Linked DNA regions of Homo sapiens. The protein of the gene in region 2 purifies or fractionates together with the protein of the main gene of each other region. This does not show direct contact. Each region holds a gene or a part of one and is shown on either strand. Other genes may lie near its edges.

Region 1 (3,814 bases), on a different chromosome or scaffold from region 2:
ATTTTTGTTATATCTTAAGATTCATTATCATGTTTATACTATAGATTATATATTCTAAATAAGAACTGTCTTTATTTGATTTATTAAATGTTTTTGTTGTTCATGCTTAACCAGTAAACAATTGCCCAACCTTAAGCCAAGAATAAAATGACTGTAAAGTAGACAGTACATTTATTTTTGGTAACATAATATAAGGAACTAACTGTTGACTTTTTAAATGCAACAACCCCCAAAATAATAAAACTACTTACAGTAGTAAAATACTATAAAACACAGCTACCTAGTCAAGAAAATGTTAACAGAACCACCTGAGAGAAAGTTTTAGAGTATTTAAGACATTCTAAATCTAAAAAATGCATAGTAACCATTTCCAGAAAACTTTTATTCATGTTACCTTTAAGTGACAGGACAAACTGCTGAAAACTGACTTTAAAGTAGCAAAGAATTACCTTCTTATGATTAGAAACCCGTCTAAGATTGTCCTCTTCAATATGAGGGAGCTGCAGAAGGGGAGACTTAAATTGCTGAAGTCCCTGAACGGCCATCTGAGAAAGCTTCATGCAGTTTTCTAGGGATGCCAAAGTTGGAGCACGAAACTCCCTTTCTTAGAAAGAACAGGAAAAAAAGAAACAGGGCTGGACTTTTTACATGTTCAGGAGTATACAATTCATCACAAAAACAAAATTCACACTAAATCCATAACACCTCAAATTTGAGGATCATAGTAAGATTTTCCTTTAAAAGTTACCAGAGAAGACACTAAAAATATACAAACTCGATCTAATGAACATTTTCCAGCAACAACCATTGATTTAAAAGAAAAATTATTTGCCTCACCTCAAATAATAGTAAATTATCAGACATTATCAGTATCACCAACATATGACACCATGACAAGAACCAACATCACCCGTAACAACAAACCATAACCACTATCCTTTTTTAAGGGCATTCCTTTCCATTACTGACCAGAAATTCCCTCATTCTTTTCCTTCCATACCAAAAAAAAAAAAATGGCTAGGTGCCTGTAGGCATGTGGCTCATGACTGTAATCCCAGGGCTTTGGGAAGCTGAAGTGGGAGGATTGCTTAAAGCCAGGAGTTGGAAACCAGACCAGTCTGGGCGACAAAGTGAGATCCCACCTCTACACAAAATGTAAAGTTAGCTCCGTGCTGTGGTATGCACCTGTAGTTCCAGCTACTCGGAGAGCTAAGGTAGAAGGACTGCTTGAGCCCAGGAGTTTGAGGCTGCAGTGAGCTATGATTACCCTACTGGACTCCAGCCCTGGTAGATGCTGTCTATAATTAATTAATAAAAATTACATGACATATGAATCACTTTTATATCAGTTAAAGATTTCAAATTCACTGTTAGAAAAAATGACCTAACTCAAAAATTATTCAAAGAAAGAGAAATTTTAAATCTTTGCAAACAATTGAACAATAAAATAATTAAATTATCATGCCTGTAATCACAGCACTTTGGGAGGCTGAGGCAGGTGGATCACAAGGTCAGGAGTTTGAGACCAGCCTGACCAACCTGATGAAACCCCGTCTCTACTAAAAATACAAAAATTAGCCGGGCGTGGTGGCATGCGCCTGTAATGCCAGCTACTCAGGAGGCTGAGGCAGGAGAATCACTTGACCCTGGGAGGCGGAGGTTGCAGTGAGCCAAGATCGCGCCACTGCACTCCAGCCTAGGCGACAGAGTGAGACTCTGTCTCCAAAAAAAAAAAAAACAAGAATTAAAATCAAAAACACAGTGACCAGGGCTTTGGGAGGCTGAGGCAGGTGGATCACGAGGTCAGGAGATGGAGACCATCCTGGCCAACATGGTAAAACCCTGTCTCTACCAAAAATACAAAAATTAGCCAGGTGTGGTGGTACGCGCCTGTAATCCCAGCTGCTCAGGAGGCTGAGGCAGGAGAATCGCTTGAACCCAGGAGGCAGAGGTTGCAGAGAGCCAAGATTTTGTCACTGCACTCCAGCCTGGGCGACAAAGCAAGACTCCATCTCAAAAAAAAAAAAGAACAAAAAAAACCCAGTGAGCTGTGATATAGACTTTAAATAATAGAAAATATAGGAAAGAAATATGAAAAGACATGAGTAAAATTGAAGAAGCTCACTGAACTGGCCGACAGAAGTCTGAGTACCCATAAATCCTAAAATATGAAGTACAATCTGCATATGCTTGCAAGAAAAAGTATAACATAATTAACTATATTTCCTCCTCACCTTCACGGTTCCGGGCCATTACTATTAGTTGGCAGATTACATTAACCATTTCTTGAAGTAGGGCAGGACACTTTTTTAGCATGAATTGCTGATCTGCAAAACAATAAAAAACCTGAAACAGATCATTTTAATTTTACAGTTAAAGCATCTTTATCACTGTGGCCCAAAACTAATATTAAAGTTATGCCACAAATATTTCACATGATCTCAGAATTTTACAGATTGAATGGAAGAGTTTCTCCTCAGTATCACTATGTCAAAAATCAGCCATAAAACCCTAGCTCAGATTAGACGTTTCAAAGACAAATTTTTAATATCATAATGTTAGGCTTAATAAACCAACTCCCAGCTGGGCATGGTGGCTCACGCCTATAATCCCAGCACTTTGGGAGGCTGAGGCAGGCAGATCAACTAAATATGTCAAAATAAATATGTCAGCTAAATACAGGGGGAGAGATAAGAGACGTAGAAGAGAAGAAGAGGGCAACTTACAGAAAGAGAAAGACTCTTTCATTTATACTGCATATAATAGTTAACTATTAAGACCACATTAACCTATGGATTTGGTACTCAACAATGATTTGTTTCCTGCTTCTTACAGGTAAGTAAAAATGGAGATGCTTATGTATCTGTACAGAACATTAGCAACAGAATTACTAGTTAATTGAGTATTTCAAAGCAACTCCAATGATATTGCCTAAATAGTGCTCCTTCATTCCACCATAAGCATCCTGTCCTATCACCAATTACTAAGCGTCACATGGCCTTGTTTTCGGAAGCATTTAACTGCATTACTGCCTTAAAGGAGGTGGGGGATGGTAGGATATCATTCAAAAAGAACATTTATTTCCTAGAGGTAGTAACTGTCTTTTAAAACTTTAACTGAAATAATGTCGGTGAAAAAGAGATAATTAATGACATCCCTGGAAACACTGTTGCCTCCATCAACTACTTTTCTTTTAAGCAGAATACATGGCTTCAAGTACTTATGAAGCTTTAAATAACTATAAAACAGACATTATTGGTAACCACTGTCGGAGGAAGCTTGTAGATGGGGAGGTGAGAGGTGTTGGTTGTTGTGAAATCCATTTTGCTCCCTCCAAAAACTTACAAAGTCCTTTAAAAAAATTATTAGGAACTTTTGTATGATCTGCAATTAACTAAACATTTCTTATACAGAGCATTCTCTCACCTTGAAACACTAAATTTTAACACTTGCCAAAACGTCTGACTTACTTAGATCTTCAAACCATTTGTGAAGTAATTATGTAGCATATACATTTCTTTTTTAAAAAGTCCTTGAGCAATTATTTGGCCAAAAAAGAACAGCAACAAAACACACCGCACCACCATGCTATGGTTTGGGTCTGTGTCCCCACCCAAATCTCATGTTGAATGGTAATCCCCAATGCTGGAGGTGGGGCCTGGTGGAAGGTGATTGGATCAGGGGGGTGGAGTTCTCCCTTTGGTGCTGTTCTCGAGATACACTTCTCACAAGACCTGGTTGTTTAAAAACGTGTGGCATCTCCCCCATCTCTCTCTTCCTCCTGCTCTGGCCATGTGAAGACACTTGCTCTGCC
Region 2 (3,646 bases):
GTGGTCTCTGACCTGACACAGCCTTATGTGTATGTGTGTATTGTTCAGGAGGAGATGATCTTCCAGATCCCATGGAAGCATGCTGCCAAGCATGGCTGGGACATCAACAAGGATGCCTGTTTGTTCCGGAGCTGGGCCATTCACACAGGTGTGTGCCTGGGACTCAGGCCTAGGAAGCCCAGGGTAGAGACAAGAGGAGGCACTCACGTTAACACAGAGGCTCTTCACTGGGGTCCCTGAGCTCCCTGAGACAACATGCAGAATTACTGGGAAGAGGGGCTGGTGGCAGACTTGTGTTTCTGGAGAAGAGAGTCGATCATCTCAGCAAATTCTCAAAGGGAAAAGCCAAGATCTTAGAAAGTGTGTGGCTTCAGGGGGTTTGTGGCTAGATGAAAGTTCTCCCTGGCAAAAGCATCTGTGAAAAGCAGCTGTAAGCCAGGGCACTGAAAGAGACCCAGGTCTGCCTTTTTCTTCGTGTTGACCAAGGCCCTTGGTCCAAGCCTCATGTGGTTGGTGGCCTCCTTTATCCTTGAGAGATGGAGCTCTAGGCCCATCTCAGAACAGTCAGCCCACCCATTTAGTAACTGTTCTCTGCTGCCCAGTCTGTGCCCACTCTACCCTCTGGCTGCTGATAGCCCAAGGAGGAAGACTGGGCATAGTCTGAGACACAGATAGTACACTTTGGGGATATGGGGACTCTAGTGCTTCTGGCTGGGCCCTTCACTGAGGCCCGCTAGATGTGTTTAAGCCAAGCCTGGGCATTTGAGAAGGCCCAGGGCCTAGGACCTGCAGAGTGTCACCGGGAGTACCTGCTGGTTTGACCACTGTGGCTCTCTGGTAGCATAAGAGGTCAGGGGTACCTTGCCTTCCTCCTTCAGGCCAGGGGCAGCTGAGGATCCCTACCCATGGCCCTGACGATCCTCTTTTTTCTCCTGCCCTCTAGGCCGATACAAAGCAGGGGAAAAGGAGCCAGATCCCAAGACGTGGAAGGCCAACTTTCGCTGTGCCATGAACTCCCTGCCAGATATCGAGGAGGTGAAAGACCAGAGCAGGAACAAGGGCAGCTCAGCTGTGCGAGTGTACCGGATGCTTCCACCTCTCACCAAGAACCAGAGAAAAGGTATCCAAGGACTCTGGGTCCTTGGGAAGCCCTCAGGGAGGGAGGGTAGAAGGAGGTCAGCTGGGGCTGGAGAGCCTGCACCAAGGCTGACAGCCCGTCTGCCCCACAGAAAGAAAGTCGAAGTCCAGCCGAGATGCTAAGAGCAAGGCCAAGAGGAAGGTGAGTGTGGTCCTAAGCAGCCAGGCCTTTGGTCACCTGTGGGCCAGGGTGAGCAGTGGAAGAAATGCTAAGGTGGGCCTGGGCCTAAGCTGCTTTCTCCCTCGACAGTCATGTGGGGATTCCAGCCCTGATACCTTCTCTGATGGACTCAGCAGCTCCACTCTGCCTGATGACCACAGCAGCTACACAGTTCCAGGCTACATGCAGGACTTGGAGGTGGAGCAGGCCCTGACTCCAGGTGAGCTGGTCCAGGTCTGGCAGGAGACCCCACAGGTCAGTGGGATGACTCTTTCTCTTGGAGGCATGGTGCTGGCACATGGTGGCCCATTAGTGCAGGCTGCAGGGTTGGTCGGAGGGCGCTCGATGTCTTGCAAACTAAGAAAGCACACAACCTTGACCTGTGGCTTCTGCTGTTCCCCAGCACTGTCGCCATGTGCTGTCAGCAGCACTCTCCCCGACTGGCACATCCCAGTGGAAGTTGTGCCGGACAGCACCAGTGATCTGTACAACTTCCAGGTGTCACCCATGCCCTCCACCTCTGAAGGTTGGTGCTCCTGGGGCCTGGCCTGCCTGCTTGACTGTCTGGGTCCTGTGAAGGGCTTCCTGAGAGAGAAAAGATGATCAGAACTCCACCTGGCACTGAATTGATTGAGTTGGGCATTGCCCAGTCTTAGCCACCATAGGGGGAGGCAAGCGACGGGGACACTAGGAAGGCAGTTCAGAGTGGGCTGCAGTACAGTGGGGGCTGGTGAGAGGAGGGAAGGGGGCCAGGGGCTGCATTTTGGGGTGCTGGTTCTCCTTCCTCCTCTGTAGCCCAGCATCTGAGGGTGAGGAAGGAAGTAGGGTAGGGGTGGGAAGCGGCGTGGCTTCAGGGTTTGAGAGGCTGAGTCACCAGGCCAGGGTCCTGTTCTGGAATCTCTATGGCAGATAGGTCCACCGGGAGGGTGTGTGTGTGTGTGTGTGTGTCAGAGAGACAGAGAGACAGAGAAAGGGCAGGGGGATCTGGTGGGCTGGAACTGGAACTGCAGGGTGAGTGTGGCTGACTGCCAGCCAACCTCTCTGCTTTCCCCATCCACAGCTACAACAGATGAGGATGAGGAAGGGAAATTACCTGAGGACATCATGAAGGTAAAGCCCCTTCCTACCTGGGCACTCTTGAAGTGACCGTTTCTCAGTGAGGAGAGAGAACCAGTGAAGCTTCCAAATCAGAGGATGGGTAGCTGCTGTTGTCACCTGGCTGCTTGCATTGTCCCACAAGTGCCACATTCACGTGGCTTGACTGGTGGGAAAGCCACCATGGGAAGGGAAGGCAGGTGGGAGGCCTGGCCTCTGACAGGCCGTCCTGAAGCAAGCCTTGGGGCATCAGACAGCTCTGTGAGTCAGGCACTATCAGCGATGGGTCCCTGGCCTGCATCCTCTGCCCCAACATGCCCCAGCCCTGCTAGTTCGGGAAATGCACATCAGGCTTCAATAATCAGCCTTTAGGATCCGTTAATATGATGATGGCTTTATAGAAAAAGTTAGCAAATTATCCTCCAGGTTTTTTTTTCTGCTTCAGTTTTGAAAGTGAATATAGTTTTTGCAGCCGGGGGCAGTGGCTCATGCCTGTAATCCCAGCACTTTGGAAGGCGAAGGTGGGTGGATCACCTGAGGTCAGGAGTTTGAGACCAGCCTGACTAACATGGTGAAACCCATCTCTACCAAAAATATAAAAATTAGCTGGGCCTGGTGGCGCATGCCTGTAATCCCAGCTACTCTGAAGGCTGAGGCAGGAGAATCGCTTGAACCTGAGAGGCGGAGGTTGCAGTGAGCTGAGATTGTGTCATTGCACTCCAGCCTGGGCAACAAGAGCAAAACTCCATTTCAAAAAAAAGTTTTTGCAGTAGTTGTACGCCAGCTGTTCCATTAGCCCAAAAAATTGAGACATGGATGTCGTTCCTTATCTCTAGCTTTTCTAGTCATCTTTTCTTGATTTATTATGCTAACCTTTGTTTTAAGCCACATTCCCTCTTACTATGTCCTTACACAGTTGAGAGGGAAGTCGTGGAGATGCTATACCAGAGAGTGGGTGTGAGAGGGGTGGGAAAATGAATTGAGGACCAGTGCCAACATGCATTTCTGCCTCCTCCCTCCCGGGCCCTTGTCCTGACTGCAGTGCACTTCTGCATCCTATCTGAGATTGTGAAAATGGCCAAGGGTGTGATACTGGCTGAGAGGAGCTGGCTCATTGAGGGCAGGGCCACAGGGTGAGTCTGCACTGGAAGGGAGTTGATAGCCTCTTGCTCTTCTGTCCCCAGCTCTTGGAGCAGTCGGAGTGGCAGCCAACAAACGTGGATGGGAAGGGGTACCTACTCAATGAACCTGGAG

What was found.
Region 1: the proteins of IRF1 (region 2) and SEC63 purify together in Homo sapiens (affinity purification with mass spectrometry, with the first as the bait; one large-scale study listed by BioGRID). This does not show direct contact.

The regions. Positions count from the first base shown.
Region 1 is NC_000006.12:107,902,395-107,906,208, forward strand, and holds part of SEC63 (translocation protein SEC63 homolog), read right to left. Parts: intron 2,328-3,814; coding exon 2,235-2,327; intron 605-2,234; coding exon 450-604; intron 1-449. UniProt on the Homo sapiens protein: Mediates cotranslational and post-translational transport of certain precursor polypeptides across endoplasmic reticulum (ER). Proposed to play an auxiliary role in recognition of precursors with short and apolar signal peptides.
Region 2 is NC_000005.10:132,484,428-132,488,073, reverse strand, and holds part of IRF1 (interferon regulatory factor 1), read left to right. Parts: intron 1-48; coding exon 49-148; intron 149-943; coding exon 944-1,120; intron 1,121-1,229; coding exon 1,230-1,279; intron 1,280-1,387; coding exon 1,388-1,517; intron 1,518-1,700; coding exon 1,701-1,823; intron 1,824-2,357; coding exon 2,358-2,407; intron 2,408-3,576; coding exon 3,577-3,646. UniProt on the Homo sapiens protein: Transcriptional regulator which displays a remarkable functional diversity in the regulation of cellular responses.